Linked DNA regions of Homo sapiens. The protein of the gene in region 2 purifies or fractionates together with the protein of the main gene of each other region. This does not show direct contact. Each region holds a gene or a part of one and is shown on either strand. Other genes may lie near its edges. The genes, in order: ACAD8, GFM2 and CZIB.

Region 1 (2,943 bases), on a different chromosome or scaffold from region 2:
GCCTTGGGCGGCAGGAATACATTTTAAACTTTGTAGTGTGCCCACACCCTGTCCTCCTGCAGCACCCAAAACTTCCTTCATTCAAAAAAGACAGTATTTGTTGTTGTTACAGACACATATTCTCTTCTCTCTAAACATTGGCTTGTAGTTAATGTCTTGCGTATTCTTTTCAATAGGGATGAGGGGATGGAGTAACATAGTAAGTTATAACAGAGCTCCCCTGGCTGGGCACAGTGGCTCACACTTGTAATCCCAGCACTTTGGGAGGCCGAGGTGGGCAGATCACTTGAGGCTAGGAGTTTGAGACCAGCCTGGCCAACATGGTGAAACCCTGTCTCTACTAAAAATACAAAAAGTAGCCGGACGTGGTGGCTTGCGCCTGTAGTCCCGGCTACTTGTGAGGCTGAGGCAGGAGAATCGCTTGAACCCCAGAGGAAGAAGTTGCAGTGAGCTGAGATTGTGCCACTGCACTCCTGCCTGGGCGACAGAGCGAGACTCTGTCTCAAAAACAACAAAAAACAGCAAACAAACAAACAAAACAAGGTCTCCTGAAGTCCCATCTGTGAATCTCACTTTAATTCTACTTTCATACATCATAAACAATGCTTAGTTTGCAAAGTTATTAATAATTTAAGGAGCCTGCTTTTTAAAAGCCAAATTGGACGAGAGTTTTATTATTCCAAAATCCAGTTAAGTGTTTAATCAAATACAATTAAACATTTAAAATAAAAATCAACTATAGTAGAACCAGAGGTGGTGAAGGATAGATTTTATCAATGTGATTAAAAATATTTAAAAGGAGGAACAGCTTCAGAAAAGGAAACAAAAACACAAAAAAAATATTCAAAGTGTTTATCAGGAAAAGAAACACTGAATAGCACTCCTAGACCACAGGCTTCTTAACATGAAACCCAACGAATATTCAAAATTCAAAAGTCTCAGCCCTTGATATTGAGGCAGTCCAGAAGTAGAAATACACCCTAAATCACAGCTTAGGAGTAAGTTTCCAAATATCCATTTTATCATGATTTACATTCAGAGGTGTGCTATCCAGAGAAACCTTCTGCATCTGTAGCTGTGGCACAGAGAACGACACAGACAGGAGGGCATTCCTCCATTTCCCCTTCCCACACCTTTGCTCTAGAATCAGGAAGAGCATCAGTGAAAGTCCCCAGGCCCCTAGAGGAGGGATCCAGTGAACTAGTAAAATGCAGACTAATCAAGATAAAGTGGATCCAAGAAAGGACTTTCATGGTTTGACGGTGAATCTTCACTGGTCACCCTTCTGGCATTAGGAAAACAAGGTAGTATGTGTTCTTCTGATGTTTCTCATCAGTCCAGCTCTTCCGGTTCCACTGGGGATTCTGCCCCAGTCCAAGACCCGATGCTGGTGCCAACACACAGGGTGCAGGTCCTGCCCTAGAGGAGCTCAGCCCTTGGGTCTAATCCATGATTCCTTTGGAATAGAGCGGCCCACATGGCACCACTCAACACTGACTGCAGTCGCACTGAACACCAGGCCAGAACAAGTGTGGGTTCTACTCCTGAAGCAGGCTTCTAGAGATCAGTATCCTCATCACTTCATTGCTACCTGTAAGAGGGAGGAAGGAGGAAGAATTTCACAGCAGCAAAGTCTGAGAGTTTAGTAAAGCTCTGACCAGGCTGCTCCAGGCCTAGTTCAGAGTAGCTGCAGATTTAAACTACAATCATTGCTTTTAGCCTGGGAGAGATGAGATTATCAGAGACTTCTCTACAAAGTACTGAAAAATGTCAGGAAATAATACTTTTTTAAAAACTTCTTCTGATGGTAAAAATGCTTATATAAAGTTTAAAAAGGCAGAATAAAAACAGTATATACAGGATAATTCTAATTAAAATTAAAAATGTACCAACAAAGGCAGAGTAAAATGCCTAAAAGGAGATGTACCAAAATAACATTCTGGATGTAGAAACATGAGTGATTTTTTTTCTTTTACTTTTCTTTTGAGACAGTCTTGCTGTCGCCCAGGCTGGAGTGCAGTGGTGTGATCTTGGCTCACTGCAACCTCCGCCCCCCAGGTTCAAGCAATTCTCTTGCCTCAGCCTCCTGAGTAGCTGGGACCACAAGCATGTGCCACCAGGCCCCACCAGGCCCGGCTAATTTTTTGTATTGTTTTTAGATGGAGTCTCACTGTCACCCAGGCTGGAGTGCGATGGTGCAATCTCAGCTCACTGCAACCTCCACCTCCTGGGTTCAAGCGATCTTCCTGCCTCAGCCTCTCGAGTAGCTGGGATTCCAGGCATGCACCACCACGCCCAGCTAACTTTTTATAATTTTAGACAGTCGGGGCTTCACCGGGTTGGCCAAGCTGGTCTCGAACTCCTGGCCTCACGCGATCCACCCGCCTCAGCCTCCCAAAGTGCGGCGATTATAGACATAAGCTACCGCACCCAGCCTACTTTTCCTAATTTTATAAGGTTTCAACAATAAATACACATTTCTTTGGTAATCAGAAAACTGACTTACAAAAGAATGAAAACATTTTCCCTGAAAGGAGGGTATCAATTATTTGCTTCATTTTTAGCAGTGGCCTTTAATGCAAAAAGAAATATAAACCCCCTCGAGGAATCAGTAGTCACATCGTCTCAAATAAAGCATAAACTGTAGATTTATCCAACAGTAAAGTCCATGATGAAACAAAGTGATACAGTGATGAGTGCCCCAATTCTTCTGTAAGTGGGTGATGGTGTGGCCTACAATAAATGTTTTCCTGCTTATTATTGCAGGGTGGAGAGAGAGTTAGAATGAAGGCGAAGTTTCCTACGCACATAAAGCTCAGTGAGAAAGCAATTCCAAGAGTAATGGAAGGAAAACGACTCTCGGGAATTCAGTTTGAACACTGGCGACTGAGCCCATAAACATCTTTCTGGAATGAGGTTTGCAGAAGAAAGCAGCGGTCTAAC
Region 2 (3,655 bases):
TTATTCTAGTAAATCTCTCTTGACAGAAAACACTTGCATAAAAAACAGAAATAAACTAGAAAAAGAAATTCACAAGAGCACTCTACAATTACACTCACATGTTAAACTTGCAAACTAGCTACTAAAGCCACCAACCTTTCCTTTGCTCAGTTCATCAGCGTGTTCCTCAGATAAGGAGCACAACTCTACTAGTATTTCCTTCTGGCACCTATCTGAACACTCCCGCCCCTAATAATCTCAAGGAAATAGCCAAGAAGTAAAAAATGGTTACAGAGCCCTAATAAGGGAGATTCTTGCAAACAAGAGAGAGAAAAGAGATAAAGCAAACAGCTTAGATAAAATTAGAAGACTCTAACATTTGTACCTGGTAGAGAACTGCAATTTCTTCCAAGCGGCACATGTGGCTTTAATCTTTTTAAACTTGCTCTTATTTTATAGCAGCATATATTCTAGTAAAGAGAAAAAGAAACTTGGCATTAATTTTATTTTAGCATCACTTATTACAGTGTTAATATTGTAATTACGCTTTGTCAGAAGATAAAATATTTTGTATAGCTTTAAAGTAGTCCTAATTTATTAACTCCAATTCTTTTAAAAAGTGACAATCCAAATATATCCTAGGGGAAAGAATAAGGATAAAATTAATACTGATTTGCTATTTTGAGCTGACCTTAAAACAATGGTTTTCCTCAACCTGCAGCATTAGCATGGGCTGAGGGCTTGTTTGAAAAACATGCTTAGGCTCCAATCCAGACAAGAGAATCAGAAACTCTTGGGGATGGAGCCAAACAATCTGTTTAAACTAGCTCTCCAGTTGATTCTAATAGCTACAGATTGAGAACCACAACCCTAAAGTTCTGAAAGTCAGAAGCTGAGTCAGAAAGGTTAAATAAGGTATCTCACCCAGGATACACCTTGGTTTTCCTCTACATCTGCTGAAAGGTCTGTAGGGGGCAATGAACTCTAAAACCATTAGTTGTTTTCAGGATTTATTACAGTTACACATTAGAATCATCTGGAAAGCTTCTTGAAGACACGGGGGTGGGGAGAGAAAATGAGAACTGGAGGAACTGGGCAGTGGCATTTAAAAAAAATTCCCAGGGTGTCTCCAATGTAGCATTCAACTGAGAATCACTGAGTTAGAGCAGGTCTGCTTAAGGCCAAGCCTACCTCCTCTACCTTAGCTGCTTACCTAACCTTCTCATGTTCTCATGTAAAGGCTGAATATTCTCCACCTCAGTTTATGCCCAGACCACTAGATATACATTTAATAGCTGCCAATGTAGTTGGAATTGTTAGTGTATGTAATGATTTAGGGCCACCACAATCTGCTTTTTGTTTCATGAACTGCGTATCTGTGCGATCTATATTATTTCTACATTAGTTACCAAGTTTCTGGCAATAATAAGCTACTATCCTCAGAAAATAATTCCACTGCATAATGACTAGGATAAGACCCAGTGTCTATCACAGCGTGCATAGTCTGAAAGCGTCAGCAATAAAAGCACTGAAGAAAAACTGGGTAACTCCTTGGGCCACTTAATGAGATCACAAATGGAATACAGAAATATATCTTCTTCAAAATGCTGCTCAGGTGATTTTTAAAGTAGCAAAAAAAAATTGTAGATGAATGGTAAGGCTTCTTAGCAACAACAACAAAAAAACTGTAGACGAATGGTAAGGCTTCTTAAGGGTTACAGGTTCTCCCATACAGCAGTCACACCCTATCCACAGGGGTTATATTCCAAGACCCCCAGTGGATTCCTGAAACCTCAGATAGTACAGAACCTAATTACTATCAATCAGAACATGGTTCTGTTCATGTCTTCTGCCCACAAACTGAATACCTTTTCCATCTTAACTGAGCTCTTATCATGTTATGTGACCATAATTTTTGTAGTTTGAAGTGCAACAGTAAAACTAGCAAAAATGTCTTTTTCTTTCTTCACAATTTCATGGATAGAAGATTCATTCCTACCATAGATCTTAGCAACCTCAGCATATGATTTGTTTTTTTCCTTATTAAGCCAAGAATGTTCACCTTTTCACTTAAAGGGAGCACTTTATGGCTTCTCTTTGGCACATCCAAATTGCCAGCATCACTACTCTTGCGCTCTGGGACCGTGATTAAGTAAAATAAAGGTTACTTGAACACAAGCACTGCAGTATCACAACAGTGAATCTGATAACCCAGATGGCTACTGACTCATGGGTGGGGAGTGTATACAATGTGGATATGCTGGGCAAAGGAATGACTCACCTCCCAGGTGGGATTAAGTGGGATGGCATGAGATTTCATCACAGTACTCAGAATGGCACACAATTTAAAACTTATGAATTATTTCTGGAATTTCCCATTTAATTTTCAGACCACAGTTGACTCTGAGCAACTGAAACAGCTAAACAGCAAAACCATGAATAAGGGGAAACTATTGTACTCCCTGTTAAGTCACTGAAGATAAAAAGAAACAACCCAAACAAGCTTTAAAGTAATCTCTCACTTAGCTATAGATAAAAAGGGTATTATTATGTTTGAGATTTAATATCTTTAAGTATACTGAAGATGTGATAGTTTAGAAAATAATTTATAGTGTTTTGAAGAGGATTCAGGAGTCAGACCAGAGCTAAAGACTAAAACAATGTTCCTGAGACAAATATCAGACTGCCGAAGAAGCTGGCTTCCAACAGCTCTGCAGAAGACAGCCAAAAGTAGTTGTATCAACCATTGTATAATTATGTTGTACTTTGATATTAACAGAAACTTTATTTCATAAGAGTCTCAATCCATGGATACTTAATATTACAAAGCACATTATTTGTTAGTAGTTTAAAGATGTGCATTAAGTGATGACATTCTTAGATATAAAACCCTACCCCTCCTTCAAAAACAACTGGCATTTTAGTACTCCATGAGACCAGTATTTAGCTACAGCTGTTCTTTTACTTTTAAATTAAGGTAATTTCCTCTTATATTTCTTAATAAATTAAGGTAATTACTTTCAAATTAGTTTAGCTTGAAGATTTCCAAAGGTTATGACTCAACTAAATTTGGAATCAACAGCTGATGAGATATACTGGGCATTTTAGGCAGTAAAGGAGCTGAGGTTGTTAAAGGACACTTAATTTTATAAGAAATGCTTACATTAATATACACACTGGGTATTGTCTGATGACTCATTGCAAATATCCTCAAGTTGGTCAACATCTTGATCCTCCAAACTGTTACTGTCTGAAAAAATAAATATACAAAATCAAAAAACTAAACTTATGTATTACATGTCAGCAAGGCATATGTAAGTTAGACATATGTAATATGTATGGTAAAATGTATTACTTTTAAAAAGTTGGAACAATATTTTTAGCTACCAAAAATTCAATGCATCATTCAGAAAATGGAAAATTCTGATTAAATATGAGAAATATGGTTTTTAGGTTTAAAATGTCCCTTATTTGTCAATGTAATGTTTAAAGAAAGATATGGCGATACAGTAGAAATCAACTTATTGAAATTACAAAACATTGTATCAACCAAAATGCATTGTTATGTAAATGTATAGAATTAAGCATAAAAAGCTAAGCATCCACATATTAACTTGGTAATTTCTAATTGGCAGTAAAATTTATTGATTCATTTGTATACTCTGATTTTCCTACC
Region 3 (4,191 bases), on a different chromosome or scaffold from region 2:
TTTAAAGAAAGCCAGTTATATGTATTCACCTATTCCTTATTTGGTATTTATTTAAAGTATCTTGAGTTGTGCCAAATTCTTGGCTTTGTCCTGAAGTTAAAGAGAAATTAAATGAGGACTCGCCTTCACGTACATAATAATCTAGTGGAAAATACAAAAAACAAGAATCGAACTAGGGCCCTAACAGAGAAGTGCCTTACCAGTGCCAGAGATGTGGTCAGTGTGCAGGAAATTACTTTACAGTGAATGACAGGATGAGACTGAATGTAGGGCATGGCACTTGTGGTCCCTAAGCCCATAGGTCAGGTAGGCATGAATTTCCTGGCCACCTGCCCCCCAAGAGGTGCCCCCTCCACATACATAACCATTTCAAAGGCTATAAGACAGCCCTCTGCCCTTACTGCATGGCAGATGGTCAGCAAAAGGCTATGGTTAAGTGTACTGGGTCTGTTTGGATGATCTAGAGACTTTGGAGCTTAACATTCTTGTTCATATTTTTGGTGTTGATAATTTTATTTACTATTTATTGAGCACTGTGCTGGGCACTTTATATGCATTTCAAAATCTGACAGTAAAATTGTAGAGGTTTCCTCGGCTCTATTTGACAGTTTAGGAATCTTGGGCCCAGAGGGGAAGATAGGCAGAGCTTACCTTACATCCAGGCAGGTTGACCCCAGCATCCACGCTCTTCTGCAGCCTCCATGTCTGCTGTCTACAGAAAGCTTCATAGGGAGCAGGTGCCCAAGGCAGGCTTCCTCTAAGAAGGGGATGAGTTCTTCCTGGGTCTCATACTAGGCCTCCAGGGGCAGTAAGTGCCCATTTGGCAGGAAGGAGAGGGGCCATGGGGTCATCCTGAGAGCTCATTTGGGCCTGCCTCCTCAACACACTTCCTTTCTAGGCTGAAGACAATGAGAACTTCAAGACAATAGTGGAGTTTGAGTGCCGGGGCCTTGAACCAGTTGATTTCCAGCCGCAGGTGTGTGTGTATCTTTCTGGGGAATCTTTGTCTTTGGGGAGGGGATGTATGAAGTGACAGCCAGAACTGTGCTACCTACAGATACCATGGACTAGACATTCTCCTTTCTAGCGGTAGTAATAATTGTCCCTTAAGTGGCTGCTGTATGCTTGGGCACCCATGCCATCATTTTTACATGTTACCACATTTAATTCTTATGGTAACCCTATGAATTTATTCATCCTGTTCTTCAGATGAGGAAGGAACTGAAGAGATTTTGCAACTTGCTCAGGGTCACACAGTAAGCAGTGGAGCTATAGTTTCAACCCAGATCTATCTGACTTGAGCTGGTGCTCATCCCCCTTTATTTGTGCATGTTTCACCTCACAACAAATCTGTGAGGTAGGCAGAAGAGCAAATACTTCATCCCCGTTTTATCAATAACTAAGGTCCAACCTGGGAAATGACATGCCCAGGAGCCTTCAGCAAACCAGGGCTAGTGGAAGGGATTACGCTGCCCCTGCTGCCTTCTGGTCCAAGGCTGTAATTCAGAGAAACCACCACTCTAGTTCTGAGGCAGCTGCCGGGTCCTGGAAGCTCAGCAGTTATTCCAAGACAGGTACTCATACTGCATCTCTGTCCTCCATCCCAGAAGTGTGAGAAGAGCCAGCAGCCTGGCCGGCCCTTACTTATAGCCCAATGCCTTCTTTTGCCAAGACTAACTGGTACCTTCTTGTGCCCTGCAGGCTGGGTTTGCTGCTGAAGGTGTGGAGTCAGGGACAGCCTTCAGTGACATTAATCTGCAGGAGAAGGTATGAGACTTGGGGGCTTTGGGAGGTACTGTAGGGCACCTGGTGGGAATTATTTTTTTGGTGGACAAGGCTCATCAATGGAAAGCCAACTCTGTATTTTTGTGCTTTTTGTTAGTGATTTTGCTGTTGAAATGGCCACAGGTATAGTGCTAAAGTGCTTTCTAATGTTCCTACGTATGAGAAAGCTATGATGCCCCTTACAGAGAGAATACGTGTTAGATAAGCTTTATTCAGGCATGAGCTATAGTGCTGCTGGCTGTGAGTTCATGAATCAACAATATATATTAAATAAGTTATCTTTAAACAGAAACACATAAAGCTAGATTATTGATTGGTTGATGAAAATGTGACCAGAGGCTCATAGGAACCTAACCCTGTATTTCCCCGGGGAGTATTCATTCAGTATTCCCTAATTCAGTGTTTGTGGTGGCTTTACTGCACCTAACTACCATGAAGAACAAGAAATAGTCTGTATTACTGGACATATTACTACCCTGCAGATAGAAAAGCCTTGTGCTCAAGCCTTGAAGGAAGGACAAAAACTTCATTTCATTTGCTCAGCACCTAATAACAGCAGCTAGCATCTACTGAGCTCTTACATGTGCCAGGCACTCACTATGCTGAGTGCTTTTATTTTATTTTATGTATTTTTTGAGACAATCTCACTCTGTCGCCCAGGCTGGAGTGCAGTGGTGCAATGTCAGCTCACTGCAACCTCTGCCTCCTGGGCTCAAGTGATCCTCCTACCTCAGCCTCCCAAGTAGCTGGGATTACAGGCGCCTGCCACCATTCCTGGCTATTTTTTGTATTTTTAGTAGAGACCGGGTTTCACCTTGTTGGCCAGGATGGTCTCGGACCCCTGACCTGAAATGATCCACCTGCCTTGGCCTCCCAAAGTGCTGGGATTACAGGCATGAGCCACCACGCCCGGCTGCTGAGTGCTTTTAAATGTGTTACCTCATTTGATTCTTTCAACATTCAATATGAACTCCATTGTCCTTTTTTTGTTTTTGTTTTTTTTAAATAGAAGACAGGACTCGGAGAAGGGACTCAGAGAAGTTAAGTGATTTGCCCACAGTCATACAACTGAAAGAGCTAGAATTCAGGCCTGAGCTATCTGGCTCTGTTCAGGGTCATACATGTTCATGATTATTTGAGTCAGAGCCTGAGCTGGGCCTTTTAAGTCCCAGTTTTCTGCTCTCCACATGGCTGCATTCTGCGTTGTGAGGCTAACAATGCCATTTTGTTTCCCAGGACTGGACTGACTATGATGAAAAGGCCCAGGAGTCTGTGGGAATCTATGAGGTCACCCACCAGTTTGTGAAGTGCTGATCCCTCTTCCTTCCCAGTTGCCCTTAAGAACTGAGAAAGGACAAAGTACTCTAAGCAGCAGAGCCCACAGAGGCTCGTTCCTTTGACCCTTGTCTCCTGGTGGCTATACGAAACCTTCACAATCTGCATGCTGGACTTTATTACAGCTTCCCAAGCCCCATCAATAAAGCCCCTGTTCACGCTGCACTGGTGCATGAAGGTGAAGTAAGGAGGCAGCTACTCCCTCCACAAATAAGAATTCGTGCAGCAGCAGTTCACTCCTTAGGAAAATGAAGAGTATTTTTAAGGAGATGGTATCTCCCCAGTCAAGGGCAAGTTTACAGAGATGAAACCGCGATCCCACCATCACTCAATGAGCCAGAAGCCAATGGTGACGTACTGTTACCTGAACTTACTGAACTTGCTGTTGGAAAGATCTTTGTGAGGATTAGGAATTAGGTTAAAAGAAATTAAGAACCATCTTCAAGCAAAAATTAAACTTTATTTCTGCTTAAACAATAAATACACCTGAGTTAGTTTTCCAAACCTTTCCTCCTGATTAAATGCCCTTAAAACTTAAATCTCTTGTTATCTTCAGTTGTGATCTAGTCCCAAGTGGAAATTACGTTTAGCTTTAAAACCATGAATTTAAAGCTCAAGCCTGTAGCTGGCTGCCTAGGCAGCTTATGATTAGTTTCACAGAATAGCACCCACTGGCTACACAGGCCCCAGTTTTTTTTTCTTTTTTGTTTTTTTGAGACAGTCTCGCTCTGTCGCCCAGGCCGGAGTGCAGTGGTGTGATCTCAGCTCACTGCAACCTCCACCTCCTGGGTTCAAGCAATTCTGCTTCAACCTCCCAAGTAGCTGGGATTATAGGCACATGCCACCACACCCAGCTAATTTTTGTATTTTTAGTAGAGACAAGGTTTCACCATGTTGGCCAGGTTGGTCTCAAACTCCTGACCTCAAGTGATCCACCCGCCTCAGCCTCTCAAAATGCTGGGATTACAGGCATGAGCCACCATGCCCGGCCTCCCAGTTTTCATGATGAGGAAGTGATGGTAGCTTTTCATCTGCCCAGAAGTTAACTTTTGATGGATTTGCCTTCTAAGG

The links.
Region 1: the proteins of GFM2 (region 2) and ACAD8 fractionate together in Homo sapiens (co-fractionation; one large-scale study listed by BioGRID). This does not show direct contact.
Region 3: the proteins of GFM2 (region 2) and CZIB fractionate together in Homo sapiens (co-fractionation; one large-scale study listed by BioGRID). This does not show direct contact.

What each region holds. Positions count from the first base shown.
Region 1 is NC_000011.10:134,263,556-134,266,498, reverse strand, and holds the end of ACAD8 (isobutyryl-CoA dehydrogenase, mitochondrial), read right to left. Parts: exon of another isoform or gene 2,554-2,943; intron 1,592-2,553; coding exon 1,539-1,591; 3' UTR 644-1,538; downstream 1-643.
Region 2 is NC_000005.10:74,760,538-74,764,192, forward strand, and holds part of GFM2 (ribosome-releasing factor 2, mitochondrial), read right to left. Parts: intron 3,230-3,655; coding exon of another isoform or gene 3,206-3,229; coding exon 3,143-3,205; intron 450-3,142; coding exon 365-449; intron 1-364.
Region 3 is NC_000001.11:53,213,567-53,217,757, reverse strand, and holds the end of CZIB (CXXC motif containing zinc binding protein), read left to right. Parts: intron 1-898; coding exon 899-976; intron 977-1,701; coding exon 1,702-1,767; intron 1,768-3,021; coding exon 3,022-3,099; 3' UTR 3,100-3,659; downstream 3,660-4,191. Other genes in the region: CPT2 (carnitine O-palmitoyltransferase 2, mitochondrial isoform 1 precursor), read right to left, coding at 4,163-4,191.